Linked DNA regions of Homo sapiens. The protein of the gene in region 1 purifies or fractionates together with the protein of each later gene. This does not show direct contact. Each region holds a gene or a part of one and is shown in the gene's direction. Other genes may lie near its edges.

Region 1 (3,500 bases):
GGAATTTTTTAAGATCATCTTTTTTTATTTTTTATTTTTTGAGATAGGGTCTTGCTGTGTTGCCCAGGCTGGAGTGCTATGGCATGATCATGACTCACTGCAGCCTCGACCTCAGGGGCCCAAGCCACCCTCCCACCTCAGCCTCCCAAAGTACTGGAATTACAGGTACACACCACCACGCCTGGCTAATTTTTTAATTTTTTCTTTTTTTGAGACAGGGTCTCTGTCGCCCTGGCTGGAGTGCAGTGGTACGATCTCAGCCCAGTGCAGCCTCAGCCTCCTGGGCATCAATCCTCCCACCTCAGCCTCCCAAGTAGCCAGGACTACAGGCGCACACCACCATGCCTGGCTAATTTTTGTATTTTTAGTAGAGATGGGGTTTCGTCATGTGGGCTAGGCTGGTCTGGAACTCCTGAGCTCAAGCAGTCCACCCACCTCAGCCTCCCAGGGTGCTGGGATTACAGACGTGAGCCACTGCATCTGGCCATTTTTTTTTTTTTTTTAGAGATGGGGTCTCACTATGTTGCCCTGGCTAGGCTCAAGTGATCCTCCCACCTTGGCCACTTAAAGTGCTGGGATTACAGGTGTGAGCCACCATGCCAGCCCCCCCGGCGTTTTTTGAGACATGGTCTTGCTCTGTCACCCATCGTGGAGTGCAGTGGCACAATCATAGCTCACTGTAGCCTCAAACTCTTGTGCTCAAGTGAACCTCCCACCTCAGCCTCCACAGTAGCCAGAACTACAGGTGTGTGCCACCACACCCAAATAATTTTTTTTTCTTTTTTTTGAGATGGAGTCTCCCTCCGTCACCCAGGCTGGAGTACAGTGGTGTGATCTCAGCTCACTGCAACCTCTGCCTCCTGGGTTCAAGTGATTATCCTGCCTCAGCCTCCCAAGTAACTAGGACTATAGGTGCACACCACCAAGCTTGGCTAATTTTTGTATTTTTAGTGGAGATGGGGTTTCACCATGTTGGCCAGGCTGCTTTTGCACTCCTGACCTCAAGTGATCTGCCCACCTTGGCCTCCCAAAGTGTCATTAGGTGCTGGGATTACAGGACAGCTACCGTGCCCACTCTAATTTTTAAATTTTTTGTAGATATGGGGTCTTGCTATGTTGCCCAGGCTGGTCTCAAACTCCTAGCCTCAGGTGATGCTCCCACTTTGGCCTCCCAAAGCACTGAGATTAGAGGTGTAAGTCACTGTGCCTAGCGAAGGTCATTCATTTTTAGATCCTGCCCCTGTAATACTCGAAAGGGGATTACTTTGGCATGCAGCTCGTGGTGACCCTGGGACCCCCAGGCTGAAATGGCCATTCAGCGGCCTGAGGGTCACCCGATCCATGTGATGTGGACAGGACAGCTGGATCACAAGGGTCAGCCCCAGCGAGCAGGCTCACTCATGATGGACATATTGAGAGACCTCTTAGTTGTTTAGATGGTTTTGTGGGAAGCAGCAACCTTAAAGGGTTGGCTTGTAATTATACAATTATGCATATTGTCTATCCCTTCACTTATCTGTACTGAGTAAAGGGCACCAAGAGAGATTTCCAGATGTTGTCAGAGCTGGGATAGTTCTATTTGTCATCCTGGTGCACTGTTGGAATTGAGAGATCTACATTCTGGAAATAGCTTTGGTCTGGACTAGGAAAGAGGAAGGAGTGAGGGAGTGTGGAGCGTTGTCAAGACTATGGACCATATGCTGGGGAAGGAAAGGATGCAGATGGGGAGAAAGAGATGAGGTCTCTGGCATGAGCCCTGGGTAGCAGCTGGTACCACTTGGGGAGTGGGGAGCCCCAGAGCTGGTGGCCTTGGAGGAGGGGCTTTGTGAGCCCAGTGCCACATCCCTGGGGTCTGGGAGCCAGAGACAGGGAGAAGCAGACCCGTACTGCTAAGAGGAGAGGGCTGGGCTGAGGGTGACGCATCAGGATGTGCCAGATTGTGGACCTGGCATAGTCTAAGCCCTGGGAGAGGTGAGCACTGTTTTCCAGGCAGGGAGCCCAAAGCGTGAAGACCTGGGGAAGGGACAGAGTGCTGAGCCTCAGGTTTCTCAGAATTTTAAGCGCAAGTTCTCCAAAAGCAATGTAACTCAAACCTTGTCTAATTTTATTGACATACTGATGGTCCCCAGCTTACGATGGTTCAAATTACAATTTTTCAACTTTACAATTGTGCGAAAGCAATATAGGCTTTCAGTACATTCCTCAACTTACTTCCAAATAAACCCATCGTAAGTTGAAAATATTGTATGTCAAAAATGCACTTTTTTGGCCAGGGATGGTGGCTCACGCCTGTAATCCCAACACTTTGGAAGGCTGAGACAGGAGGATCACTTGAGGCCAGGAGATCGAGGCCAGCCTGGGCAACATAGCAAGACCCTTGTCTCTTAAAAAAAAGAAATGTGTTTGGCTGGGCGCGGTGGCTTACGCCTGTAATCCCAGCCCTTTGGGAGACCGAGGCGGGCAGATCACCTGAGGTCAGGAGTTCCAGACCAGCCTGACCAACATGGAGAAACCCTGTCTCTACTAAAAATACAAAGTTAGCTGGGTGTGGTGGTGCATGCCTGTAATCCCAGCTACTTGGGAGGCTGAGGCAGGAGAATCGCTTGAACCTGGGAGGTGGAGGTTGCGGTGAGCTGAGATCGCGCCATTGCACTCCAACCTGGGCAACAAGAGCAAAACTTCGTCTCAAAAAAAAATGTACTTTTGACTTGTGATATTTTCAACTTACACTGGGTTTATCTGGATGAAATCCCATTGAAAGTCAAGGAACATCTATATATTCATTTGGGCATAAGTGGAAATACTGGTAAGTAGCCTGAACTCACTGATCGGAGTAATTAGGGTGAGGCTAATGTGGTGATTTAAAGCAAAAAGAATGTGAAGTAAATAAGCATATAGGTGGCCAAGAGATATAGTCATGCAGGTGTTGGGAGAGCAACTGGTGCTGGGCGACAGACATTAGAGGACAGGAGGGCTCCCAGCAGCTTCTGGGACTGCCGTTCTGCCCCTGAAGATTGGCTCCCCCTGCCTTCAGCGCAGCAGGATTTGCGGCCTTGTCAGAGAGCAGCCAGCTGGGATCCAACGGGACCTTCTGGGAGGTCCTGCAGGGGTTGCTTCCTTCCGTCTGCCTTGTTGTCCCCCTCCTGTCCTCACCTGGTCTTGTTCTGGCTGTCCATGGACCCTGGGCTGTGGCAGGTAGTGTGGGGCTGCAGGTGCATGTCCCGGGTGGGGCATGGGCCACCGACGGGCTTTGCAGGGTCCCCTCCCCTGCCCCCTTCACGGCTGCATCTGTCTCTTTCCTCCACAGGGGGAGGGGTTGCACCAGCTACGCGAGGCTTTGAAGATTTTAGCTGAGAGGGTTTTAATCTTGGAAACAATGATTGGGCTCTATGGTGAGTAGAGACAGACAGACGGACAGACGGCCCAGCCCCTGCCTGCCAGCCTTCCCCAAGCCCTCCTGGGGTGGAACTGGCCTGAGCCCAGTCATGAGGCTGGAGAAG
Region 2 (3,500 bases), on another chromosome or scaffold:
CTCAGTTGACTTTCAAAAATCTTAACAGTCTAGTGACCAGGCACGGTGGCTCATGCCTGTAATCCTAGCAGTCTGGGAGGCCGAGGCAGATGGATCGGGCAGATCGCTTGAACTGGGAGTTCGAGACCAGCCTGGGCAACGTGGCGAAACCCTGTCTCTGCCAAAAATACACAAAGTAGCTGAGCATGGTGGTGCATGCCTGTGGTCCTAGCTTCTCGGGAGGCTAAGGCAGGAGGATCACTTGAGTCTGGGAGGCAGAGGTTGCAGTGAGCCGAGATCATGCCACTGCACTCCAGCCTGGGTGACAAAGTGAGACCCCATCTCAAAAAAAAAAAAATCTTAATAGTCTAGATATAGAAAAAAGGTGAAAATTATACATATATAAAATGTTTGGGGGGGGGGTTACGTGCATTGGAACTTTCACATAAGGGGGTTAGTGACAATCAGATTTATGTAAGAATGATGAAATGTTTGAAAAATTCTGTGATGACAGATAAACATTATACCATAAATTTGTTGAAATCATAACACAGTTCTAGCTTTTAGTTTATGTTCTGTGGATTTCTTGTGTGTGTTTACGGGTGTTTTTATATATGTATGTATGTATGATTGTTCCTCCAAATCACCCACCTCATTCTGGATATTTACTAATCAGATTAGGTTTAGCTCTACTAGAAACTTACCCTTAGAGTGAAAAACTACTTGATGCCAATGATGATCTGCGGGATAAAAGCGAAGCAATGAGAGACTGCACAAAAGGAGACCGCTCCAAAAATATTGCGCAATGATGGAGTCACTGGGAAAAAAAAGACTGTCTACTGCAGGCAGAAATGTACACTCCTAAGCTAGAGGCTAATTGTTTGAATAAATATAGCATCTTAAAATTTCCTTTCATAAATAAAACATAGTGATAGAAGAAAGATGAAGCCCAGGAGTGCTATGTGAGCACTTAATCTGACACGAAGGAGAAAATCACAGAAAGAAAGCCTTCTTATAGAGAAGTCACCTCATTCTCCCAAGAAGCTAGGACCACAGGCATGTGCCACCATGCCCAGCTACTTTTTGCATTTTTAGTAGAGACAGAATTTTGCCGTGTTGCCCAGGCTGGACTCAAACTCCTGAGCTGGAGTGATCTGCCTGCCTCAGCCTCCCAAAGCACTAGGATTACAGGCGTGTTCTTCTGGACACTCATGCCCTCTGTCTGCTCTGTATGCCTATTGGGTGATTTGCTCTACTTGCCAGCTTTGCTGTAAAAAGACGAAAAAAAAAAAAGGGGCAGTAAGTATAACTGCTTATGCGAGTGTGCATTTTGGTGGAGGAGTTTTATAAATGATAGACAAAATTCCCCTTTAGGCTCTATTTAATCTTTCAGATAGTAAATCCAGATTTGCCCCCAGATGTAAGACGTCATGTGACTAGTAGCTTGTGACTGTGTAAGTCATCGGTTTCACTTTATGTATGGATAGGATTACACGCAGAGGTGAAAGGTGAAACGCTGGTTAAGAGTACAAGTTTCAAGTTTGCTCTGTGCTTCCATACAAATATAATAGAAGCAGCTTCTGTAGAATTTCCTTAGCAGTAAACCAGACGTGTTCCAAGAGAATAACAGTAATAAAAAAATTTAGGTTAAAAATCTTAGAGTTAAGGCTTAAAGTACTGCCTAAATGTCACTAAGGTACACTTCTGAGCTGGCCTGCAGCTAACTTCAGATCTGACTTTTGCTTGAATTGCAGTCATCCGAATTTCACTAGGAACATAGGCAAAAGATAACTTTTGCAAATAAATTTCATCATTTCACCTTTATGGCAAATAATGGATTTCTAATATGAAACTTTAATAATATTAACATATGGGAATTACATTAACATGTGACTAGTTACACTATCATTGGAATTTTAACCAACTGCTTCCAAATACAGTTAGAGAATTTTATAATTATTTGATATAATGGGGATAGCTGGGACTGAATGTCACTTGGACATTCAAAAGATCAATACTTGAATTAAAGTTAACACTTATCTTGGGAGTGGAGGTAAAAAATAAATAAAAAGCTTGTTTCAGTGCTATGAAAGATGCCTGTAAATAGCACAGCTGTTTTAGGTTTCTTGTTGTCTGAGAAAGGGTTTACAAATAAGGAAAAAGGCTACAATGAACCTCATAGCATTGGATTGGATTAGACATTAATATGAGCTTCAGGTTTCATATGTGTGTGTGTGTAAGAGTATATGCATATATATATGTGAGTGTGTATAGATATATGTATGTACACACACATATGTGTAAACAGATAAAGAAGTTGATACAGATGCATGTGTGTATACATACGTTTATTTACTAGCCATACCTGCTGAGAGGGCTTAAAAGGAATGACACCACAGAACCAATTAACTTACCTCGTGCTCAAAATTCGGTTTTTAAATATCATTCTCCAGTAAAAAGAATGGGAATCTCTAGAGAAATGCCTGATTTTAGGACGGGTGGAACAAGTCAAGTAAAGATGTGCCTGAGATATTTTGTTGTGCAAGAAACTAAGGAAATGCTTACAAAATGATGGGGACATGTGACAAAGATACAGGATACTGCCATACAAGCTCCAAACATGTAAGACAATTTGAGCAACAAACTAAATAATTACTGTAATGGGTTCAACTTATAGAGTAAACTAATAATCCATGATAAAAATGAACAAATGAATAAAGAAATGGGGGAGAAGGGAACCTCTTTCTTTTTTTATTTTTATTTTTTTATTATACTTTTAAGTTTTAGGGTACATGTGCACAACGTGCAGGTTAGTCACGTATGTATACATGTGTGGAACCTCTTTCTAACAGTAGAATTCCAGCTAATAAATGTAGAAGGAATGGCAGAAATAAAAAAGTCACCATTAAACACCACAGTGATGATTGTTGTAGGGAGGAATTAATTGATGATAACATTAGTGGGGAAAAGTGCGGTGAGAAACAGGATATTTACATATTTGCACTAAGTACAAAGGGAAAAATAATAACTTTTCTGTGGAGAAACATGGCAAAAACAACTTGAAGCAGTGTGCTTCCTGATAAACTGTGCAGGGTACATCACTTGTGTTTTATTTCTGCCAAAAATACATACGTTGAATTTAATGATAAGGAAACATCGAACATCACAGATGGAGGTATATTCACCGGCCAGTGCTCTCTGAGAGTGTCAAGGTCATGAAAAGCAAGGAGAGTGAGGAACTGTTCGAGAGTAAAAGAGACCAGGGCGACAACAGTGAAATATAGCTTATGATCCTGGATCTGAAATAGGGCATTGAGATAATTGATGCAATTTGAGTAAGCTTTTTAGGCTAGCACTGATACAACACTATTATGTAATTTCCTGATTTTGATAGTTGTATTCTGGTTATCTAAGATGTTAACATTTGAGAAATATGTGTGAATGGTAGGAATGTTTACTTTTTTTGCAATGTTTTTGTAAATCCAAAATTATTTAAAAATGAACAGTTAAATATATTTAAA
Region 3 (3,500 bases), on another chromosome or scaffold:
TGGATTCTCAATAACCCTTTTAGTTAATATTACTAATATTATTATAGTGTGTATAATATATATTAAAAAGTTTTTAAAACTTTTTATTTTAAGATAATTTTAGATTTACAGAGGAGTTGCCAAAGCTAGAATTCTGTATACCTTTCACTCAGCTTCCTCTAACGTTAACATCTTACGTAATCATGATTACATTCATCAAAATTAAGAAATTAACGTAGATGTTAATACAATCAACTAAACTGAAGACTATTCACATTTCACCAGTTTTTCCAGTAAGGTCCTCCTTCTGTTCCAGGATCTAATCTAGGACACTACATTAAAACACACATTTTGTGACTTACGACTTCTGGGGTCAAATTTTCCAGGGTCATTTACTCTTTTATAGCCATTTCACATACGCTGCTTGTGATTTTAAGCTTGAATTTGTTCACATATATACTATATAATTATGTAATACTGTATATACATAGTATTATACACACATATGTAATACTGTAGATACATAGAGTATGTATATATATATATACACACACATACACATATATGCATGTTTGTATATATGTGTGTGTGTATCCATATACACACACACACACACTCTGTGTATCTATAGTATTATAATACTATTATTATCCCTACTTTTTTACATGTATAAAGGAAGGAATCGAGAGGTTGGGTAACTTGGTAACCAAGTTTCCACAGTTAGCAATAGAAAGTCATAGAGAGTTTGAACTCAGGCTGTTTCAAGATCCCTGCTTTTAATAGCTCACGATTATGACTAGAACACATTCAGTAAATATTTGCCTCCCTCTCTAAGTGTGAGTATGTTCCCCCTGAGAATGTGAACAAATTCAAGCTTAAAATCACAAGAAGCATCTGTGAAATGGCTATAAAAGAGTAAATGACCCTGGAAAATTTGACCCCAGAAATCCTAAGTCACAAAATATGTGTTTTAATGTGGATTAGATCCTGGAACAGAAGAAGGACCTTACTGGACAAACTGGTGAAATGTGAATAAAGTCTGCAATTTAGTCAATTGTACATTAATTTCTTAGTCTTGATGAATGTAATCATGATTATGTCAGATGTTAACATTAGAGGAGGCTGAGTGAAAGGTATACAGAATTCTATTCTATCTTTGGCAACTCCTCCACAAATTTAAAATTATTTTAAAATAAAAAGTTTTAAAAAAATTGGGAAGAAAATCACTCAGAAAGTCTGTTTTGATATAAAATAAAACTTTCTTTTTAAAATCCTTCGAAGTATAAAGAATTTCAAAAATAATTAACATTTTAATCACACTGTAAACATTGTGCATTCAGATATTTTTTTAAGCTGACAGACTAGTTAGATGAAAAGAGTCCAGACTGAAATGTTTGGAATGGGTGTCTCAATCCTAGATTAAAATAAGTACTCTTTCTAACATGTCTTAAGACACTACTTTTAAGGAATTACTCCAGAAAAACTTCAGGAAATAATTTTTGCCTGGTTAGTAGCCTCAAGGATTTAAACTGATTAATATTTTTATTAAATATTTCTGTAGTAGATTACATTTTTTTCTTTCTTTCATGAGAAGTGTTTTATCAGAAAGGTGTGTCTAAAATGGATGCTTTCCTTGTTTATTTTCTGGGTGTGTTTGGAAGTAGACTGTTGCTTATCTTCATACTGCTCCCAATATCACCTTCTTCTGAAATAATTTGTTTTGGTGTGTTTGGTATATTTGAAAATATTCCCAAGAGCCACAGACTGGTGAAAATTCTTCCTTGAAGGGGTTGATTGGTAATATATATATGTGATACTTATAACTTCATTTTTCTTCTCTCCTTGACTCTGACCAAAACCTTTGCACTGATTGATTATAGTTGTGCCAAAATTGTTCACAATGTCTGCTAGATAAACCATAATAATCTAGAGCTATTCAATAGCAGACAGGTCCTTACTAAAAAATAATTTAGAACTAGAGAATTATTAAGGTCAGGGAATAGTATAATAAGAGCACTGTTCTGATTTTCCCCAAAATTATGATGTGCCTTAGTTCAGAAAACCCAGCCTTGCTAGGAGCGGTGCCTCACGCCTGTAATCCCAGCTTTTTGGGCGGCTGAGGCCGGGGGACTGCTTGAGCCTAGGAGTTTGAGATAGCCTGGGCAGTATAGTGAGATCCTATCTCTCCAAAAAAAAAAAAGATGAAAAAAGAAAGCCAACTCTTGATCATGTTCACCAATGAGCATCATTCGCTCTTCACTATCTGCTGAAAGGAAACAGAGAGGGCAGTTTATCCAAAGCCTAAGTACTTTATCCACCGATAAAGTTCTCAAAACTAAAGAGGAAACAAATAAATTCCCTGTTTGTAGTATGTGCAGATCAAGTCAAAGCAGATCACCTTTTGTAGTGACCCAGCAAGTGCTTTTCTAACTGTGTTTTTCAGAGCCCTGGGGTTCTACAGATCTCAGAGCATCTGGAAGAGAGAGAAACAGGTGGAAGTCAGCTTCATTGGCAAAAAATACTAATCTGGGGTTTGGGGGAAGATTTTGTTCCAAATGGGAAAGTGGGTTCTGACAAGACCTTGGGGCATATTGGTTTGAGGGGCTCTTCTCCTTTTACTCCAGTTTTCTGAGATTCCCTAAGAAAGTCCTCCTGCTACAGGCCAGCACAGTGAGCTCCTCCTTTTGTTCTTTTTTGCAGGATGACTTACTGTCTCTGAAGGTTGTAAGTGTGCTACACCATCTCAGTATCAAAAGGGCCATCCAGGTCCTGAGGATCAATAACTTTGAACCAAACTGTCTACGGAGGCGGCCATCTGATGAGGTAGTGTTTTAAGATTGAGGTTTATAAGCATGCACTTCCCAGGCATGGGACTGTCCATGTGTCGAAACTAAGAGCCATTTTTCTTGGAGCCTGCAGGAAAAGCCTTAAAATCCAGCCTCATTTACTTCTTAGGCTTTTTCTGTATTCCTTCCTTTTCTCTCCATGACGGTTCCCCTTGTGTAACTAAAGCCAAGGGTTCTTTTTCAGTTATGCTTCTTCCTTTTCTTGGGTGTATTTTTTTTTCCTGACTCTAATCAACAGAGATAAATATCACTATAAAGACTTCCTTTTCTGGCCAAGTATAGTGGCCAATGCCTATAATCCCAGCACTTTGGGAGGCCAAGGCAGAAGAATCACTTGAGCCCAGGAGATCAAGACCAGCCTGGGCAACATAGGAAGACCCTGTCTCTACAAAAATAATAATAAATTAGCCAGGCATGGTGGGTGCACGCTGGTGGTCCCAGCTACTCAGGAGGCTGAGGTAGGAGGATCCGTCTGAGCCTGGGAGATGGAGGCTGCAGTGAGCCCTGATTATACCACTGCAACGCCAGCGTGGGTAAGAGAATTAGACCCTGTCTTAAAAAAAAAAAAGACTTCCTTTCCTAAAGCAATGCTTTATTAGTATATAAGAAAGCTTGAAACTCAAACTATGACAGAAATTCTTTAAAAGAGAATTTTTCCCTTTCTTTTTGCATTTA
Region 4 (2,989 bases), on another chromosome or scaffold:
TATATTGAAGTGAATTTCATTTATTATTTATTATTGAAAGTCAGTGTTAAGTTTTTCTGGGAAATTCATGTGGTTAAGTCTGCTCAGAAGATGGTGAGTGCTGAACACTATGGCTGGCCACAGGCACCCTGCCCTTGGGAGCCTGAGGCATTGGTGGATCATCCCATGCTGTGAATGGACAGGAGCTGGGGCTGCCCCTCCTCTACATTGCCCACTTCCCTCCCTCCCATGCATACCTTTCCTTTGCTTTCATTTGATGGCCATGTTTACCATTTTACTGAGTAGAATCAGGAATAAGGGACCTTCCACAGGTTGTCCTCTGCCTTCCCTGCCCTCCCAGCCACATCCAGCATCCTCCCTATATCCCCTTCCTGACGCCTCTTGTTGCTGGAAACGAACCATGCAGCTCGTAGTCAGTCAGCCCTTCCCTGGGCTGGGATCTCATCTCCCACCTACCCAAGGACATTCATTCAATGAGTATCTCTCTCGTGCTACCACCCCTCCCCATATTAGGTGGTGCCCATCAGCAGCACACAGACATGAAACATGCCTCCCTGTCTTGGTCCCACTTCCCTCTTTAGCCACCACTTCATGTTTCTGCCCTCTTAATGGTAAAACTCCTCAAAAACGCTTGTGATACTCACTTCTTCAGCCTTCTTTCCCATGGGGATGAAGGCCCAGGGTTGAACATGACCGTGAATCCCAGTCCTTGGTAGCATCCCATACTTGATCCTCCCCTCCTTGCTCCTAGGATGTCCGTGGTCCCCCTCCTGCCCTGCTGGTTCCTCCTCATCCCCCAGCTGCCCCCTGGATTCATTCTCTCAACCTCTCCTCTGCATCGTCTGTACCTACTCCTCAGAAATTTCATCCAGTTTCATGGATTTTTAAGTAACATCACTATTCTGACAGCTCCAAATTTGTATCTCAAACCTCTGAACTCCACACTTGAACATGCTACTGCTTCCTTGAAATCTTCATTAGACACCTATTGGATGTCTGGTAGCCACTGCAAAGTTAACATATCCCAAATCCAGTTCCCGGCTTTCTTCCAACCAACCCCTTCCTTTGGTGGTCATCTCTGTTGATGGCGGCTCCATCCTTCCAGCTGCCTAGATCAGGTGCCTTGGAATCATCCCCTCACATCAGCCCATTCACATATCCTATTGGCTCTATTGAAAATACATTCAGAATTGGACCACTTGTTATGACTTCCATGGCCACCACGTGGCTCAAGCCACTATCATCTTCCTTCTGGATTATTACAGTAGGCTGCAGTTTAGTCTTGGTAGACCTGGTGGGTGCCTTTCAAGTGAGTTAAGATGGAGGTCGTGTCACTTGCTTGCTTACAGCCTCTCAGTGGTTTCCCTCTTTCACCTGCAATCAAAGGCAAACTTTGCAGGGGTGGCCAGGGCCCTGAGTGATCTGCCCCCCATTTCCTCTCTGACCTCCGCTCCTTCCTTGAGCATGGTAGGCAGTTCACAGTTGGGCCTCTGAGTTTGCTGTTCCTTTTGCCTAGGACTGTCCAGCCCCTCCATTCTCCCCAGCATCCCCATGGCTGATCTTGTACTCACTTCAGATCTCTACTCAAATGTCTGCTTCTGTTAGGCCCTGCTTGCCCATCTCCGACCTTCTTGTTTCCATGGCTCTGCTTTGTCTTTCTCATCTTCAAACCATGTTTCTCTTGTTATGTGTTCCTTGTCTGTCTCTCCTCACTAAAGTATAAATTGCTTAGGGCAGGGCCTCTGTTTTGTTTCAGTGCAATATTCCTTGTACCTAGAATGATGCCTAGCATCTGGAGGAGGCTTAATGAATATGTTTTGGAAGGGTGAATGAATGTGTCCGATTACTAAAATCAGTCTCTATAATTTAAGTGGTTTGGGATGAGATTTTTTTTTCCTTTTTATTAGATAGAGTCTCGCTCTGTTGCCCAGGCTAGAGTGCAGTGGCACAATCTCGACTCACTGCAACCTCCACCTCCCAGGTTCAAGCAGTTCTCCTGCCCCAGCCTCCCAAGTAGCTGGGACTACAGGTACCCATCACCATGCCTGGCTGATTTTTGTATTTTTAGTAGAGACGCAGTTTCACCATGTTGGCCAGGCTGGTCTTGAACTCCTGACCTCAGGTGATCCACCTGCCTTGGCCTCCCAAAGTGCTGGGATTACAGGCATGAGCCACTGCACCTGGCCAAGATTGTTTTTCTTGAAAAGACCGGTATATGGAAGTAGACAGCTCTAGAGTATGTTAGGTGGCAGTGGGATATTATTTTGAGTTAATTTTAAGCTATAAGCAGCAATCCACTCATTTGGAAAATGTCAGAAGAATTAATTATAGATGCATAAAACCAAAGTAAATTAAATAAGATAAGCCAAACAAGACAATTACAAGTAATGTTAAGTAACACATCGAAGCAGTTGTTTTTGGATTAATACCACCTTTTTCATTAAATATAAATTGGAATTGGATTTATAAATTAAAGGGAAGTGGTTTCTCTAATTTTTTTTTTTTTTTTTTTGAGATGGAGTTTTGCTCTTGTTGCCCTGGCTGGAGTGCAATGGCGTGATCTGGCTCACTGCAACCTCCGCCTCCCGGGTTCAGGCAGTTCTCCTGCCTCAGCCTCCCAAGTAGCTGGGATTACAGGCACGTGTCACCATGCCTGGCTAATTTTTGTATTTTTAGTAGAGACGGGGTTTCACCATGTTGATCAGGCTGATCTTGAACTCCTGACCTCAGGTGATCTGCCCGCCTCGGCCTCCCAAAGTGTTGGGATTACAGGCATGAGCCACCGAGCCCAGCCTAGTTTTTTTTTTTAAATTAAGCTTTATCATAGGAAGTTGTTAAATTTTTAATAAGTACATTTCTGCTTCTCAGTTGATGTCATAACTTAGTTATATTCTTAGTAAAAAGCAAAGGCTTAAGGCTGGGTGTGGTGACTCATGCCTATAATCCCAGCACTTTGGGAGGCTGAGGTGTGCACATCACTTGAGTTCAG

Evidence for each region. The genes of interacting proteins can lie anywhere in the genome.
Region 2: the proteins of EMID1 (region 1) and RAB32 purify together in Homo sapiens (co-immunoprecipitation; one large-scale study listed by IntAct). This does not show direct contact.
Region 3: the proteins of EMID1 (region 1) and PPFIBP1 purify together in Homo sapiens (affinity purification with mass spectrometry; one large-scale study listed by BioGRID and IntAct). This does not show direct contact.
Region 4: the proteins of EMID1 (region 1) and MCM3AP purify together in Homo sapiens (affinity purification with mass spectrometry; one large-scale study listed by BioGRID and IntAct). This does not show direct contact.

Annotation. Positions count from the first base shown.
Region 1 is NC_000022.11:29,250,896-29,254,395, forward strand, and holds part of EMID1 (EMI domain-containing protein 1 isoform 1 precursor), read left to right. Parts: intron 1-3,034; exon of another isoform or gene 3,035-3,195; intron 3,196-3,307; coding exon 3,308-3,392; intron 3,393-3,500.
Region 2 is NC_000006.12:146,550,333-146,553,832, forward strand, and holds part of RAB32 (ras-related protein Rab-32), read left to right. Parts: intron 1-3,500. UniProt on the Homo sapiens protein: The small GTPases Rab are key regulators of intracellular membrane trafficking, from the formation of transport vesicles to their fusion with membranes.
Region 3 is NC_000012.12:27,684,706-27,688,205, forward strand, and holds part of PPFIBP1 (liprin-beta-1), read left to right. Parts: intron 1-2,679; coding exon 2,680-2,802; intron 2,803-3,500. UniProt on the Homo sapiens protein: May regulate the disassembly of focal adhesions. Did not bind receptor-like tyrosine phosphatases type 2A.
Region 4 is NC_000021.9:46,237,623-46,240,611, reverse strand, and holds part of MCM3AP (germinal-center associated nuclear protein), read left to right. Parts: intron 1-2,989.